Regions from separate parts of the Homo sapiens genome. Here region 1 is linked to region 2. The links come from fine-mapping of genetic effects on gene expression. A gene starts in region 2. The other region holds a variant in brackets. All regions are shown on one strand. Distances are between the middles of the regions.

The links.
Region 1: its variant is fine-mapped to the expression of MRPL20 in whole blood (Lepik 2017, PIP 0.94).

Annotation. Positions count from the first base shown.
Region 1 is chr1:1,289,012-1,297,276 of GRCh38, forward strand. SCNN1D (sodium channel epithelial 1 subunit delta) reads left to right here. Exons shown (of 18, transcript NM_001130413.4): 13 at 1,260-1,377; 14 at 1,466-1,544; 15 at 1,626-1,683; 16 at 1,884-1,942; 17 at 2,054-2,129; 18 at 2,243-3,014. The coding sequence ends at 2,599. It overlaps ACAP3 (ArfGAP with coiled-coil, ankyrin repeat and PH domains 3), which reads right to left. Exons shown (of 24, transcript NM_030649.3): 15 at 7,414-7,622; 16 at 7,200-7,269; 17 at 7,004-7,098; 18 at 6,725-6,927; 19 at 6,436-6,543; 20 at 5,707-5,805; 21 at 5,391-5,617; 22 at 5,079-5,188; 23 at 4,812-4,922; 24 at 3,380-4,697. The coding sequence ends at 4,553. MIR6726 (microRNA 6726) reads right to left here and starts at 7,159; the gene lies at 7,099-7,159. RefSeq lists enhancers at 1-72, 345-917, 3,382-3,927, 8,172-8,265 and a silencer at 3,008-3,077. The variant C/T (reference allele first, on the strand shown) is at 3,456.
Region 2 is chr1:1,403,117-1,411,385 of GRCh38, forward strand. It overlaps MRPL20 (mitochondrial ribosomal protein L20), which reads right to left and starts at 4,177. Exons shown (of 4, transcript NM_017971.4): 1 at 4,015-4,177; 2 at 3,793-3,903; 3 at 2,693-2,770. The coding sequence starts at 4,101. MRPL20-DT (MRPL20 divergent transcript) reads left to right here and starts at 5,232. Exons shown (of 1, transcript NR_170330.2): 1 at 5,232-7,568. It also overlaps the pseudogene RN7SL657P. RefSeq lists enhancers at 3,374-4,040, 4,041-4,708, 4,122-4,251, 4,709-5,375, 6,299-7,186 and 2 more and silencers at 3,892-3,951, 4,432-4,621.

The sequences.
Region 1 (8,265 bases), 110 kb before region 2:
CCGTCCCGTGTCCCTGCTCCGTCCCCCGAGTCTCTGCTCCGTCCCGTGTCTCTGCTCCGTCCCCCGAGTCTCTGCTCCGTCCCCCGTGTCCCTGCTCCGTCCCGTGTCCCTGCTCCGTCCCGTGTCTCTGCCCCGTCCCGTGTCCCTGCTCCGTCCCCCGTGTCTCTGCTCCGTCCCCCGTGTCTCTGCTCCGTCCCGTGTCTCTGCTCCGTCCCCCGTGTCTCTGCTCCGTCCCGTGTCTCTGCTCCGTCCCCCGTGTCCCTGCTCCGTCCCGTGTCCCTGCCCCGTCCCGTGTCTCTGCCCCGTCCCGTGTCCCTGCTCCGTCCCCCGTGTCTCTGCTCCGTCCCCCGTGTCTCTGCTCCGTCCCGTGTCTCTGCTCCGTCCCCCGTGTCTCTGCTCCGTCCCGTGTCTCTGCTCCGTCCCCCGTGTCTCTGCTCCGTCCCGTGTCTCTGCCCCGTCCCCCGTGTCTCTGCTCCGTCCCGTGTCTCTGCTCCGTCCCCCGTGTCTGCTCCGTCCCGTGTCCCTGCTCCGTCCCGTGTCCCTGCTCCGTCCCGTGTCCCTGCTCCGTCCCGTGTCTCTGCTCCGTCCCGTGTCTCTGCTCCGTCCCGTGTCTCTGCTCCGTCCCGTGTCTCTGCTCCGTCCCGTGTCCCTGCTCCGTCCCCCGAGTCTCTGCTCCGTCCCGTGTCTCTGCTCCGTCCCGTGTCCCTGCTCCGTCCCCCGTGTCTCTGCTCCGTCCCCCGTGTCTCTGCTCCGTCCCGTGTCTCTGCTCCGTCCCCCGTGTCCCTGCTCCGTCCCGTGTCTCTGCTCCGTCCCCCGTGTCTCTGCCCCGTCCCGTGTCCGTCCCCCGAGTCTCTGCTCCGTCCCGTGTCTCTGCTCCGTCCCGTGTCTCTGCTCCGTCCCGTGTCTCTGCCCCGTCCCCCGTGTCTCTGCTCCGTCCCGTGTCTCTGCTCCGTCCCCCGTGTCTGCTCCGTCCCGTGTCCCTGCTCCGTCCCGTGTCCCTGCTCCGTCCCGTGTCTCTGCTCCGTCCCGTGTCCCTGCTCCGTCCCGTGTCTCTGCTCCGTCCCGTGTCTCTGCTCCGTCCCGTGTCTCTGCTCCGTCCCGTGTCTCTGCTCCGTCCCCCGTGTCTCTGCTCCGTCCCGTGTCTCTGCTCCGTCCCGTGTCCCTGCTCCGTCCCGTGTCCCTGCTCCGTCCCGTGTCTCTGCCCCGTCCCCCATGTCTCCGCTCCATCCCATGTCCCTGCTCATCCCCCCTGTCCCCAGGCCTGCCTGGTGTCCTGCTTCCAGCAGCTGATGGTGGAGACCTGCTCCTGTGGCTACTACCTCCACCCTCTGCCGGCGGGGGCTGAGTACTGCAGCTCTGCCCGGCACCCTGCCTGGGGTGAGTCCTGCTCGCTGCCTCCCACTCTGTCAGCCATTAGCCGGGGGGTCACAGCGAGCCTCACACATGCCTCTGACCCCTCCCCAAGGACACTGCTTCTACCGCCTCTACCAGGACCTGGAGACCCACCGGCTCCCCTGTACCTCCCGCTGCCCCAGGCCCTGCAGGTGAGACGGGGGTGTTGGGGTCGCGGCCAGGGATCATTGCCCCAGGTAGCGTGGCAGGTGACACCCGGCTGTCTCTTCCAGGGAGTCTGCATTCAAGCTCTCCACTGGGACCTCCAGGTGGCCTTCCGCCAAGTCAGCTGTGAGTCCCCAAAGTGGTGGGGTGGGGGTGTGGACAGCCAGGCAGACCCCACAGGTCCCACAGAGCCCACCCAAGACAAGGGCAGGGCCGGAACTGACCCAGCCTATGCCCCGTGGTCTCTGCCCCCACATCCGCCCGTGGTACCCAGGATGGCCGGGGGCATGGGGGAGCCGTGGCCACAGCAAACCTTCCGTCTGCAGGGATGGACTCTGGCCACGCTAGGTGAACAGGGGCTGCCGCATCAGAGCCACAGACAGAGGTGGGTGCACCCTCCCCCTCCAGAGAGGCATCACAGCCCCTCTCCCCTCAAAGCCCCCCTCCCCATCATGAAGGTCTGGGCCAGCGCCCTCATGCCTCTATCCTGCCCCAGGAGCAGCCTGGCCAAAATCAACATCGTCTACCAGGAGCTCAACTACCGCTCAGTGGAGGAGGCGCCCGTGTACTCGGTGAGCCTTGGCCCCCTGCCTGGGCTAGAGCGGGGGCAGCGACAGTGGCTGGCCCTGCACAGAAGGGGCACGGGGGCCTGGGCCCGCCCCTCACACCCGCACCCCACCCGCAGGTGCCGCAGCTGCTCTCGGCCATGGGCAGCCTCTGCAGCCTGTGGTTTGGGGCCTCCGTCCTCTCCCTCCTGGAGCTCCTGGAGCTGCTGCTCGATGCTTCTGCCCTCACCCTGGTGCTAGGCGGCCGCCGGCTCCGCAGGGCGTGGTTCTCCTGGCCCAGAGCCAGCCCTGCCTCAGGGGCGTCCAGCATCAAGCCAGAGGCCAGTCAGATGCCCCCGCCTGCAGGCGGCACGTCAGATGACCCGGAGCCCAGCGGGCCTCATCTCCCACGGGTGATGCTTCCAGGGGTTCTGGCGGGAGTCTCAGCCGAAGAGAGCTGGGCTGGGCCCCAGCCCCTTGAGACTCTGGACACCTGAACCAGACCTGCCAGGGCTGTGCGATCTCTTGGCCTGGTCCTTGCAGCTGTGGCAGCAGCAGGCTCCCCAGCGGCCCAGGGTGGGCCAGACCAGCAGCCCAGGAAGCAGCACACGCGGCCGTGGGGAGGCAGGCACCGGGCATGTCGGCGCCTCTGGTCAAACCACCTACACTGCCTGGGGTGGGTCTCAAGGAGGCCCGGGGCGGAGGGGGGTTCCCGCGTGCACACGAGTGCGGCTGGACGTGCCGACACGCGGTGATGTACCCATGCTCCGTGTGTCTGTGTCTGCATGTCCACACGTCTGATGCACCTGTGTACGTGTGTCAAGCCTAGCCACCTCAGCTGCAGGGAGGCAGAAGGCAAGGCAGGCCCCACGGACACACTTGGGCTGCTCTGAAATAAAGCTGTTGACTCCACCTGGCGGCCAGTGTGTGCCTGTGTGCCCCTCCAGCCGCCCCGCGCCCGGTGAGCTGAAACCCTGACTGCACCTGGCGGGACGAGCCCCAGCCTAGCCTCGCCGGTTCGCGTCCACCCCTCTTCCCACCAGGAAACTCAGTCTAGGACAGAGAAGGGTAGAAGGGCGAGACAATGGGGACCAGGGGCATCAGGACCCAGATTTTGTCAAACGAGCCCCAGGTCCCCATCAGGCCCCTTGCGGCCTGTTGGAGTCTGACTTGAGTGAGTGCTACCCGGCTCAGGAATGCCCCTCGGGGAGGGCAAGGGACACAGACACTCCCCGGAGACAGAGCAGAGCAAGGCACGGGAGCCCAGGAGCAGGCAGTGGGCGCAAGTGCTTTATTCAAAGCGAGGGGTGGGGGGTGAGACCCGCCAGCAGGGGCCTGGGGCAAGAGGCGGGG[C/T]CAAGCTCACACAGGGAGAGGGGCAAGAATCAATTCTGTTCTTCAGGGTCACAGGCAGCAGGCAAGAGAGTTGGGGGGCCGGGTCCAGCGCCCACTGTGCCCTCAGGGAGCCTCCCCAGGGCAGCATTGCATAGTGACCAGCCGACTGGCCTTAGCCTGACCTGCGCTGAGTGGGGGAGGCCCTGCCTCCCTGCCGGGCACCTTTGGGGAAGGGGTGCGTGAAGGCATTGGCAGGCCCTGCAATATGAGCCGAAAGACCCCTGGACCCAAGGGGGAGGCTGGTCAGGGGCAGGGCTGGGGCTCAGGCGTCCTCAAGAGTCCACAGAGAAAAGACGCAAGACAAAGTCAGACGAGGCCTATAGCAAACCCACTCGGTCCGCTACAAAGAACATGAGATGAGGGCTGCAAAGTGGCAAAGTGGCTTTATGCGCAGGCTCTGGGCCGAGTACCAGGAGAAGGTGCCTCCGGAGGAGGCCGGGATGCGGCTGGGGCTGTCTGGCACGGGGACCTTCGTGGCCAGCCACGTGGCCTTGGGACGCCCGCGTCCAGCCAGGGCTGAGGACCCAGGCCAGAGCCCCTCCCGCCCAGCACCCGCGACGCCAGCCTGGATGCTGGGGTCACTAAGTGAGGTACTCGTTGGTTCCCTGGATGGGCCACCCTTTCTGCCCTGGGAGGAGGCTCTGGGGTGTGCAGGAGGGAGCCAGCTAACAGGTCAGTGTTCTGGGCAGAAGTGGGGCACGAAGTAACACAGGCCCTGAGGACACAGGGACACAGGTGACACGGGCCTTAAAAGTGGCTTGTGACATGAGCAACCCAGGCCCCTGAAAAGGGGTGACCTGAAGACAGAGGTTCCCCAGGTGGGGTGAGGGACACCCGACGATGCAGCACCCCCCCAGGGAAACGTGAGGCTTCAAGAGACTCAGTGTGGGGCCCTCGCTCTCCTCCTGGGCGAGCAGGGCCGCGGCGCCCCAGCACTGGGGCTGCCAGGTATCGACCCGCGGGTCACACGCAGGGCCGCGGCCGGGTGGGCGCCAGGGACTTCGGGGCATGCGGGGCGTCGGGCCGGGCGGGGTGGCAGCTGCCCGGCCTGCCCGGCCCTAGCTCTCTTCCAGGTGGAGGCTGATGAACTCCTGGATACACCTGCGGAACTGGAGCTCCGTGGGGCTGCCCGCCAGGGCGCCCGGGGGACCAGGGGCAGCCTCGGCCTCGCGCATTTCCTCCGCCATGCGCGCCAGACGGAGCCTACGGGGAGGCACAGCGTGAGACGCCCCTGCCCTGGAGGCCCCGCCCCTGCCCTGGAGGCCCCGCCCCTGCCCTGGAGGCCCCGCCCAGCCCCGAGGGCCCGGCCGCGCTCACAGTGTCACGATGTCAGCGTTGGCCGCCTGCACTGCGATGGCCAACGGGTCCCGCTGCTCTTGGTCCAGGGCGTGCTGGTCCGCGCCCCGCTTCAGGAACAGGCAAACCTGGCTGAGGGGCGAGGTCGGAGGGGCGTGTCGGGGCGGGGCGGGGCGGGGCGAGTGTGGTCGCGGGGGCGTGGCCGGATAGGGCATGGCGGACAGGGCGTAGCCGGGCCGGGGTAGGCGTGGTCGGGGCACAGGGCGGGGCGTGGGTTGCGCGTCTCACCCGGTGCGGCCCAGCAGCGTGGCGTGGTGCAGGGGCGCCCGGCCCCGGCTGTCTCTTTGGTTCACGTCCGCTCCGTTTTGCAGCAGGAACTCACAGACGATCAAGGAGCCCTGGGGAGCCGGGGCAACTCAGACGGAGCCACGGCACCGGCCCCTCTCCGCGCCTCTGCACCCTGACCCCGGCCTTGGGCGCCCCCAGCCGGGACCGAACGTGGTCCCCACCGCGGACAGGCGACCCTTGTGTGGGCGCCACAGAAGATGCAAACGCGACTGTGCACCTGTGTCCTGCGCGCAGCCCCCGTGGCTCGCTCACCCCTAGCACGGCCTGCACCAGCGGCGTCTTGCCCTCATCCTCCGCGTCCGCCCAGTTGACCTCGGCCCCGTGGGCCAGCGCCGCCGCCAGCGCAGGAAGGTCGCGGGCACGCGCTGCGCGGTGCGCCAAGAGCCCCGGGTGCAGCTCGCGCACGTCCGCCAGGCCCCAGGCCTCGGCCTCAGTGTCCCCGTCTGCCTCACCGCTGGACTCCTCCGACTCTGCACCCTCTGTGGGGAGGGGGCGGTCAGGGAAAGCAACCCCCGGGGCTGCCCAGGGGCTGGGCAGGGGCCTCGGGCGAGGGCAAGACGCCACCCACCCTCCTCAGTGACGCTGTCCACCACAGAGCCCGAGCCGAAAGCCAGGACGTCCGAGCTGCCATCCGAGCTGCCCCCAAGGCCACTGTCGCTACTCAGACCTGCAGGTCCGCAGGGAAGGGGGTCCTGAGGGTGGGAGGCCCAGACTCCGTCCAGAGCCCTGGGGCAAGGCTGGAACTCCACCCACCCTCCAGGGGCCACCCCTAGGGACAGGACCAGCTCCCACCCAGGGCCGGGGGGAGCCAGCTGCAGGCTAGGAGCAAAGGAGAGAAAACCAAATAACAGCTCAAAGGTGCCAGGGGTAGCCCCCTAAAGCCCAGGCCTTTTGGGAAGCCCTTCCCTCCCGCTCGCCGCCTTACCCGGCACCCCCCGCAGTGGGCCCCCCAGCCCCGTCTGTGGCTGGCCCAGGCTGAAATGTCTCCACCCAACCAACGGGCAGCATGGCTCCAGAAGGGCCCTAGGCTGAGGGCCGGCTGGCAGCGCCCTCTGCTTCCCCAGCACCCCGGGCCACCCGCTGTGTGCACACACCCAGGTGCACACAGCCCACACACACATTTGCACAGCTCACCCCTGACAGTCAGGGCCTTGGCCTCCAGCTGTGTGGCCAGGAGGCCCCCCGCCCCTTCAGATGCTGCTCCATTCCCTGGCAAGGGCCATCCACACTCAGGCACCCTTCAGGCCAGCCTCCTTGGCCCTGCCCTGCCACCTGGCTGGGCCCACCCCACACTTACTGCGAGGGCCAGCCCCTGCGGCCCCTGCGTCGAAGTAGGAGAAGAGCGAGTCCAGCTCGTCGGGACAGAAGAGGGAGTCTCGGCGGAACTTACGATCCAGGGTGCCCACTGCAGGGGCAGTGCGTGTTCAGAGTGTGGAACAGGCCCGGGGTGGGGCAGGGAACCCCAGGTCACGCCGGGAGTCTGCGGAGCCTGAGGTGCCCCCAGAGCCCTGCCACCAGCCCCTTGACGGAGTCCATCCCCGACCAAGGCAAGCCCCTCCCAGCCCTGCCGGGGCATGGCCTCCCACCTGAGGACAGAGCGGCCACACAGGGCAGAACGGGCTCAAGCCGGACCTTGCGGCGGGCAGTGGGAGCGCGGGGAGAGCTGTGGGGCCGCAGGCACTTCTGCACCCTCCAGCGTCTTGGGGCCTCCAGGGCTGGTGCCATGGGCGCCTTCCGCAGAAACTTCTTTTCCACGTATTTGTCCTTGATCCAGGCCTCCTTGTCCTGCCTGGACCAGGGGGGAACATGAGGCTGTGCCCCCAGGCTGGGGCTCCCTGACTGATCCAGACTGTACCCCACCTCACCGGGAGCTGCTGGCTGTGGGTTTCCTGCTGCCTGCACCCTCACACTGGGCCTCATAGATCTGATTCACAGCGCTGTTTCCAAGCTCACACATCAGCTAGCGGGAGACAGGGCGAGCAGGCATCAGTGCGAACCTGCAGACCCCAGCTCCCGCCCCCACAAACGGGGTCCCGTGGCCTCCAGGAGCCCCACACGCACCTTTAGCAGCTCAGGCTCCCACGAGTCCAGCGTCAGGGACCGCACCTTGGAGCAGTGGACACCCAGGCTCCTGGAGAGCAGAGGTAGGGATGAGTCTGGGGGAGGCAAGGCCCCCAGCTCCGGCCCAACCCCCACCCCCGGCCTGGCCCTCAGGGGCCCACCTGTGGATGCTCCAGCCCAACCCCCACCCCCAGCCTGGCCCTCAGGGGCCCACCTGTGGATGCCGGAGCACTCAATGCAGAGCAGCACGCCCAGGTTGATGCTGGCCCAGCGGGGGTCCGGCTGGCCGCAGTCGCCGCACTGGCTGTTGCCGGCCACACTCTGCACACGCTGCAGCACACTCTCGCCCTTCACGCCACGCTCCCGAGTGTCGGTGGCGGAGTCGATGCTGCTCGTGGACGGGGATGCTGTGCGGTCCAGCCTCTGGAGGATGGGGTGGAGCTGCTCGGTCCCGCAGGGGCTCCAGCATGGTTTCCCCAGCAGGCCCCCTCCTCCCCAGCCAGAAGAGCCAATGCAGGCCAGGGCCCCTCGAGCACACGCCCGCACACGCACGTACACGCGCACACCCTCACGTGGGCAGATGGCCCCCCCCTCGAGCACACGCCCGCACACGCACACACGCGCACACCCTCACGTGGACAGGTGGCGCCGAGCACACGCCCGCACACGCACGTACGTGTGCACACCCTCACGTGGGCAGATGGTGCCGAGCACACTCCCACACGCGCGTGTATACGTGCACACCCTCACATGGGCAGATGGTACCTGCACACACATGCACATCCACACTGCACAAGCCAGCATGCCAGTGCACACCAGCACACACCCAGCTTGCAGGAGCCACACACAGGCGTGTGCACGTGTGTGGGGCAGGGGCCATCCCCAGTGGCACGTAGGTGTGTGCACCGGCACGGGGCAGGGGCCATCCCCAGTGGCACGTGTGTGTGTGCACAGGCGCGGGGCAGGGGCCATCCCCAGTGGCACGTGTGTGTGTGCACAGGCGCGGGGCAGGGGCCATCCCCGGTGGCACATGTGTGCACGGGCTTGGGGCAGGGGCCATCCCCGG
Region 2 (8,269 bases):
AGATTGTATCCAAAAAAAAAAAGGAACAAAAACACAAAATTCGGCTACCGAGGACAAAGTGGCCTACTACCTGTGACCTAACTGTACTACCTGTGACCTGTATGCTTTGTGCAAAGTCTGTCTCCTTTCTTTCTTTCTTTTTTTTGAAACAGAGTCTCACTGTGTCGCCCAAGCTGGAGTGCAGTGGTGCGATCTCAGCTCATTGCAAGCTCCACCTCCCAGGTTCATGCCATTCTCCTGCCTCAGCCTCACAAGTAGCTGGGACTACAGGTGCCCGCCACCGCACCTGGCTACTTTTTGTATTTTTAGTAGAGATGGTGTTTCACCATGTTAGCCAGGATGGTCTCGATCTCCTGACCTCGTGATCCACCCGCCTCAGCCTCACAAAGTGCTGGGATTACAGGCGTGAGCCACCGTGCCCGGCCAAGTATGTCTCCTTTCTTAACTACAGTTCCCTGAGTAAAATGGGAAAGTCAAACCTCCTAAGCCTACCCTGAAGATCTTTGTAAAGCACCAAAGAGTGCCTTCTGCAAAATACCCACCCCCTCAACCTTTTAGGAAAAACTTAATGTACACAAGCAGAGGGACTAGCATAATGACCAGATTCAGTAATCACCAAGATTTTGCTACACTTGCATAAACCATCCGTTCGCTCCAAAACATTCCCCTTCCTTTCTGTAAGTTCCTATTTCACCTGCTATGTCATCAGAAATCACTCATTATTAAAACTTTTTGTTGTTGTTGAGACACAGTCACACACTGTCGCCCACGCTGGAGTACACTGGTGTGATCTCAGCCCACTGCAACTTCTGCCTTCTGGATTCAAGCCAATCTCCTGCCTCAGCCTCCCGAGTAGCATACAGGCGCATGCCAGCACCACGCCTGGCTCATTTTGTATTTTGAATAGAGACAGAGTTTTACCACATTGCCCAGGCTGCTGTCGAACTCCTGATGTCAGGTGATCAGCCCGCCTCTGCCTCTGCCTCTCAACATACTGGGATTACAAGTGTAAGCCACCGCACCCAGCCTCATTGTTTTAACTTTTTTTTTTTTTTGAGATGGAGTCTCGCTCTGTCGACCAGCCTGGAGTGCAGTGGCGCGATCTCAGCTCACTGCAATCTCCGTCTCCCGGGTTCACGCCATTCTCCTGCCTCAGCCTCCCGAGTAGCTGGGACTACAGATGCCCGCCACCACGCCTGGCTAATTTTTTTGTATTTTTAGTAGAGTCGGGGTTTCACCATGTTAGCCAGGATGGTCTCGATCTCCTGACCTTGTGATCCACCTGCCTCAGCCTCCCAAAGTGCTGGGATTACAGGTGTGAGCCACCGCGCCTGGCCTGTTTAAACTTTCAAATTAAACTTTGAAGTTAAAGTCAAGTTTTTCTACACTTTTTTTTTTTTTTGAGACAGAGTCTCACTCTGTTGCCCAGGCTGCAGTGCAGTGGCGTGAACTCGGCTCACTGCAGCCTCTGCCTCCCAAGTTCAAGCGATTCTCCAGCCTCAGCCTCCTGAGTAGCTGGGACTACAGGTGCCGGCCACCATGCCCAGCTAATTTTTCGTATTTTTAGTAGAGACCGGGTTTCACCTGTTAGCCAGGATGGTCTCAATATCCTGACCTCATGATCTGTCCGCCTCAGCCTTCCAAAGTGTTGGGATGCCTGGCCTTTTTTCTTAATGGGGAAACATCAGGACTTACATCCCAGAAAGACGTGCCCTGTTTCCAATTCTGCTCTGCTGCCAACCAGTGCGGTAAGCTCCCAGACCTGCCAGAACCCCACACCAAGACAGAGTGCAGCTACGGTGCAGCTGGAGTGGCACTCCTCGCCTCTGCCACATGGACTGCTAACAGGCTGCGCCAGGTCTGATGGGAGGGTTTGATTTATTTACTTTTAGAGATGGAGTCTTGCTCTGTTGCCCAGGCTGGAGTGCAGTGGCATGATCTCGGCTCACTGCAGCCTCCGCCTCCCAAATTCAAGCAATTCTCCTGCCTCAGCCTCCAGAGTAGCTGGAATTCTAGGTGCCCGCCACCACACCTGGCTAATTTTTGTATTTTTAGTAGAGACAGGGTTTCACCACGTTGGCCAGGCTAGTCTCCATCTCCTGCCCACCTCAGCCTCCCAAAGTGCTGGGATCACAGGCCTGAGCCACCCTGCCCAGCCATGGCTTTCTTTATTCTGTCAGACGGGGTCCTGCTCTCACCTAGGCTAGAGTGCAGTGGTACCATCATAGCTCACTGCAGCTTCAAACTCCTGGGGGCTCAAAGTGATCCCCCTGCTTCAGACTCCTCAGTAGCTGACATTACATGTCTCTGTACCACCACACCCAGCAAATTTTATTTTTTTGTAGAGAGTGGTCTCACTATGTTGCCCAGGCTGTTGCTGGCACTATTCCTAGGCACAATCTCATCACTCATCAACATGGGAATTGTGACCTGCTCCGTTTCCAGCCTGGGCTGGTTCACCCCTCCTTAGGCAACGTGGTGGTCCCTTGCTCCCAAGAGGTCACCATATTGATACCACACTTAACATGGACACCCCATCAGCATAGCAAACTACAGCCCAGAAGTCAGTCTCCAGGGATCCTCTGGCCTCAGCCTCCTGATTAGCTGGGACTACAGGAAGCACCACCACGCCCCGCATGATGGTTTCTGCAGATGTCCAGAATTTCAGTGGGACCCACATACTCACCCATACCTTAACTAAATTCCCAATGAGCGCTGGATACTTCAGTCCATGTTCCTGGCTAGCAGCTGTAATTCGATTAATCCAGAGCTGAAATAAGAAAACATGAAGATACTTAAAAATGACTTCTGGATGTTATGTCCCAGCAAAGCCTCTAATTGATCTAAAGAATATTTTTCTAAAAGTAAATAGCAAAATCAGTGAGCTATGATGGTGCCATCACTCTGGCCTAAGCGAAATCAAGACCCTGTTTCAAAATTAAAAACAGCAAAAACCCAGCTGGGCACGGTGTCTCACGCCTGTAATCCCAGCACTTTGGGAGGGCAAGGCAGGCAGATCATTTCAGATCTGGAGTTCGAGACCAGCCTGACCAACATGGCGGAACCCGGTCTCTACTAAAAATACAAAAAATAGCTTGGTGGCGCACACCTGCAGTCACAGTTACTCGGGAGACTGGGGCGGGAAAATCGCTTGAACCCGGGAGACGAGGTTGCATTAAGCCTAGATCGCGCCATTGCACTCCAGCCTGGGTGACAGCGCGAGACTCCGTCTCGGGGTAAGAAAAAAAAACCGGGGTACGTTAGATGCTAGGTTCATGAGGCTGAGACGGGAGTGGTGAGGCGCAGTAATGAGGCGGCACGTGGACAGAGTGGAGGCGCCAGCCTCCCAGAAATGCGGGGGGTTCCGGGTGGGCAGAGCTTGGCAGCAGGCGTGGTCTCTTCGAGGAGCACCACGGCAGCAGATAGTAGCCCTGGAGGGTTGGCAAGGGGCTGGGTTGACTTCAGCTGCCAAAGGGAAGGGAAGCCACCGGAGGGATGAGAGCAGCAGCGACTAGGGCGGTGGCTGGCGACGCAGGGAGAGTGTCAAGGCGGCTCTGCAGTGGCCCGGGCGAGGGGCTGGAGCAGGGGGTGACAGTGGGGGTGGCGGCGGGGCGGGAGAACGGATGTCCCACAGTTTGCCTGCGGGGCGACATAATTTGTCGGAGTTTCGAAGCAAGGTATGAAAGGAAGGGGCTGAGGGTGGCCGGGCGGCTGCACACTAGCTGGGTCGCGGCGCAGAAACGCAGGGGCCGCGAGTGCGCTGGCCGGCGGGTGTCCCGGGTCCACGCTTACGGTCCTCATGTTCTTTTTCTTCAGGTATCGGGCTTTGGTGCATTTCACAAAGGCTCGAATCACGGTTCTGACCGCCAACCTGTAGCAGCGATTTTTCCTTCCCCGGAAGTGCTGGGACAGAAAACGAGAAACCAGGGTTGTCAGCGGGGCCCGCGCCGGCCGCCCCTTGGCCCGCGGGATACCCCGGGCGCCCAGTGCCCAGGCCGGGCAGGCGGCACTCACCCTGGCGTGCTTCAGCACCTCCTGGATCCGAAAGTAGCGGTCGGTGACGCGATTCCGCAGCCAGAGCTGCGCGGTGAGGAAGACCATGGCGCCTGCAGGCCGGCGTCCCGAACACTCAACAACGCACGCGCAGCGCCGCTGCCATCTTGCCCGGGTCGGAAATGGTGGTCACGAGCGCTTCCGGGTCAGCCCCTGCGATACTTCCGGGGCGAAGGTCGTCTCCCGTCAGCCCGCGGGTGCCCAGTTGTGCTCCTGAACTCGCGGTGGTGGTGCGTGTTGGGGAGCGGATGTGGGGCCGCGGCGGGGACTGAAAGGAGAACGGGGCCGCAGCGCCCGTGGCTATTCGCGGACGATGGATAAACAGCAGCGCACGCGGACCGTCCCGGAGCACGGCCCCGGCCGCAGCTGTGGCTCCGAGGGCACCGTGAGGGCAGCGGACCCGGGTCGGGGGCCCCGCGGCCGGGGAGCTCGGGTGCGGCGCGGGCGGGGAGGGGCAGGCCGCCCCCTGGGGCCACGAGGATGTTCAGGAACCGAGGTGGAGATGGTCGCATCGGTGTGAAAGTGCCCGTTGCCTCTGAACCTTGCACTTTGTTTACTTACTCATTTTGAGACGGGGTCTCGCCCGGTCGCCCTGGCTGGGGTGCAGCGGCCCGACCTCGGCTCGCCGCGGCCTCTGCCTTCCTAGTAGCTGGGACGTCAGGCGCGCGCCGCCACGCCCGGCTAATTTTTTGTGTTTTTTGTAGAGGGGGCGTCTTCCCGCGTTGGCCAGGCTGTTCTCGGACTGCTGGCTTCTGCTGGGATTACAGGCCTGAGCCACCGCGCCATGCCTGGAAATTCTCAGCTTCGAAATGGTAAATGTGATCGCTGTGGTGCTGATGCCTGTAATCCCAGCACTTTCGGAGGCCGAGGGGGGAGGAACACTTGAGTCCAGGAGTTCAATACCAGCCTGGGCAACATAGTGAGACCCCATCTCTACAAAAAATCAAAAAGAAATTAGCCGGGAGCGGTGGTGGCGCGCGCCTGAGGTCCCAGCTACTCAGGAGGCTGAGACGGGAGGCTCGCCTGAGCTCTGGAGGTGGAGGCTGCAGTGAGCTCAGATTGCACCACCGCACAACAGCCTGGGCAGCGGAGCCAGAGTCTGTCCCAAAAAAATAAGAAGTTTTATATTATGTGTAATTTTATATTTCTGCTATATTATCGAAAAATTGGGGGTGTGCAGTTTCTTTATAACAGTTTATTATACTTGGATATTTTTTAAATCATAGAAGAGTTGGAATACAAGTACAAGGAAAACTCCCCAGTGTTCACTACCAAAATGTGCCAGCTGTTTTCATTTGTTCCATTTGTTTAATACTCTCGAACCAAATTCACCTACTATTTACGTTTTGCTCCATTTTTGAATCATTCTCTCTGTAAATATAAACATAATGGATTTTTTTCCTAAACCATTTGAGACGCTGGAGACACCTAAACACTTTGCTGTGTATTTACTCTTAGGAACCACACCGTAGAATGGTCAAAATCCGGACCCAGCCCACACTCCAGATTTAACTCGCTTCAAATGTCTTTTATACCTTTTTTTCCCTGTTGAGGATTCAGTCTAGGATGACGCACTGCATTTGTTGTTGTGTTTCTTGTTTTGTTTTGTTTTTTTCTGTTTTTGAGACGGAGTTTTGCTCCGTCGCCCAGTCTGGAGTACAAAGGTGCGATCTCGGCTGACCGCAACCTCTGCCTACCCGGTTCAAGTGATTCTCCTGCCTCAGCCTCCCGAGTATCTGGGATTACAGGCGCACACCGCCACTCCCAGCTAATTTTTGTATTTTTAGTAGAGACGGGATTTCACAATGTTGGCCAGGCTGGTCTCGAACTCCCGACCTTAAATGACCAGGCTGACCAACATGGTCAGCTACTCAGGAGGCTGAGGCAGGAGAATCGCTTGAACCCGGGAGGCAGAGTTTGCGGTGAGCCGAGATCCCGCCATTCATTGCACTCCAGCCTCGGAAACTAGCAAAACTCCATCTTAAAAAAAAAGAGGAGGCCGGGTGCAGTGGCTCTGCACAACACTTTGGGAGGCCGAGGCAGGTGGATCACCTGAGGTCAGAAATCCGAGACCAGCCTGGCCAACATGGTGGAACCCCATCTCTACTAAAAATGCAAAAAGTAGCCGGGCGTGGTAGCGGGCCCCAGTAATCCCAGCTGAGGTGGGAGAATTGCTTGAACCCGGGAGGCCAAGGCTGCAGTGAGCCAAGATCGCACCACTGCACTCTAGCGTGGGTGACAGATCAAGACCTTGTCTCAAAAAACAAGAAGAAGAAAAACTACTTTTTTTTTTTCAGATGGGGTCTCACTCTCACCCAGTCTGGAGTGCAGTGGCGCCATCTCAGCTCATTGCAGCCTCTGCCTCCTGGGCTTGAGTGATCTTCCCACCTCGACCTCCTGAGTAGCTGAACCACAAGTGCATGCCTGGCCAATTTTTGTATTTTTGGTAGAAATGGAGTTTCACCATGTTGCCCAGGCTGGTCTCAAAACTGGCCTCCCAAAGTGCTGGGATTACAGACACAACTGGCCTACCTGCAGGATTTTCAGTTTATGGACATGACTGACTGGAGACATGGAGAAGCTGTTGTTATTGGAGATTTTTATTACTCGCATTTCCTGAGCGATGGGGACACTCACTGTGGGGAAAAGCAAGAGAGATCAGATTGTTACTGTGTCTGTGTAGAAAGAAGTAGACATAGGAGACTCCATTTTGTTCTGTACTAAGAAAAATTCTTCTGCCTTGGGATCCTGTTGATCTGTGACCTTACCCCCAACCCCGTGCTCTCTGAAACATGTGCTACGTCCACTCAGGGTTAAATGGATTAAGGGCGGTGCAAGATGTGCTTTGTTAAACAGATGCTTGAAGGCAGCACGCTCCTTAAGAGTCATCACCACTCCCTAATCTCAAGTACCCAGGGACACAGAAACTGCGGAAGGCCGCAGGGTCCTCTGCCTAGGAAAGCCAGGTATTGTCCAAGGTTTCTCCCCATGTGATAGTCTGAAATATGGCCTCGTGGGAAGGGAAAGACCTGACCGTCCCCCAGCCCGACACCCGTAAAGGGTCTGTGCTGAGGAGGATTAGTATAAGAGGAAGGAATGCCTCTTGCAGTTGAGACAAGAGGAAGGCATCTGTCTCCTGCCTGTCCCTGGGCAATGGAATGTCTCAGTATAAAACCCGATTGTATGTTCCATCTACTGAGATGGGGAAAAACCGCCTTAGGGCTGGAGGTGGGACCCGCGGGCAGCAATACTGCTTTGTAAAGCATTGAGATGTTTATGTGTATGCATATCTAAAGCACAGCACTTAATCCTTTACATTGTCTATGATGCAAAGACCTTTGTTCACGTGTTTGTCTGCTGACCCTCTCCCCACAATTGTCTTGTGACCGTGACACATCCCCCTCTTTGAGAAACACCCACAAATGATCAATAAATACTAAGGGAACGCAGAGGCTGGCGGGATCCTCCATGTGCTGAACGCTGGTTCCCCGGGTCCCCTTATTTCTTTCTCTATACTTTGTCTCTGTGTCTTTTTCTTTCCTAAGTCTCTCGTTCCACCTTACGAGAAACACCCACAGGTGTGGAGGGGCAACCCACCCCTACACTCACACTATGCAGGGCGACATGAGAAGCCCCGGTGTTTTGTCAGGAGGCAGAGAGAGGGGAGAAAGCTAAGGCCAGAGCCTTGGCTGGGGATTCTGTGGGAAAGGCAGGGAGGGCGGGGTGAGCAGCTCAGAATGGGCCAGCTTGAAAAATGCCATCTTGGCCGGGCGCAGTGGCTCACGCCTGTAATCCCAGCACTTTGGGAGGCCAAGGCAGGCGGATCACCTGAGGTTAGGAGTTCAAGACCACCCTGGCCAACATGGTGAAACCCCATCTCTACTAAAAAACAAAAAATTAACTAGGTGTGGTGGCAGGCGCCTGTAATCCCAGCTACTCCGAAGGCTGAGGCAGGAGAATTGCTTGAACCCAGGAGGCAGAGGTTGCCAGTGATCCGAGATTGCGCCATTGCACTCCAGCCTGGGCAATGAGAGCGAAACTCCATTTAAAAAAGAAAAGAAAGGCCGGGCTCAGTGGCTCATGCCTGTAATCCCAGCACTTTGGGAGGCCAAGGTGGGCAGATTATGAAATCAGGAGATTGAGACCATCTTGGATAACACGGTGAAACCCTGTCTCTACTAAAAATACAAAAAATTAGCTGGGCGGGGTGGCGGGC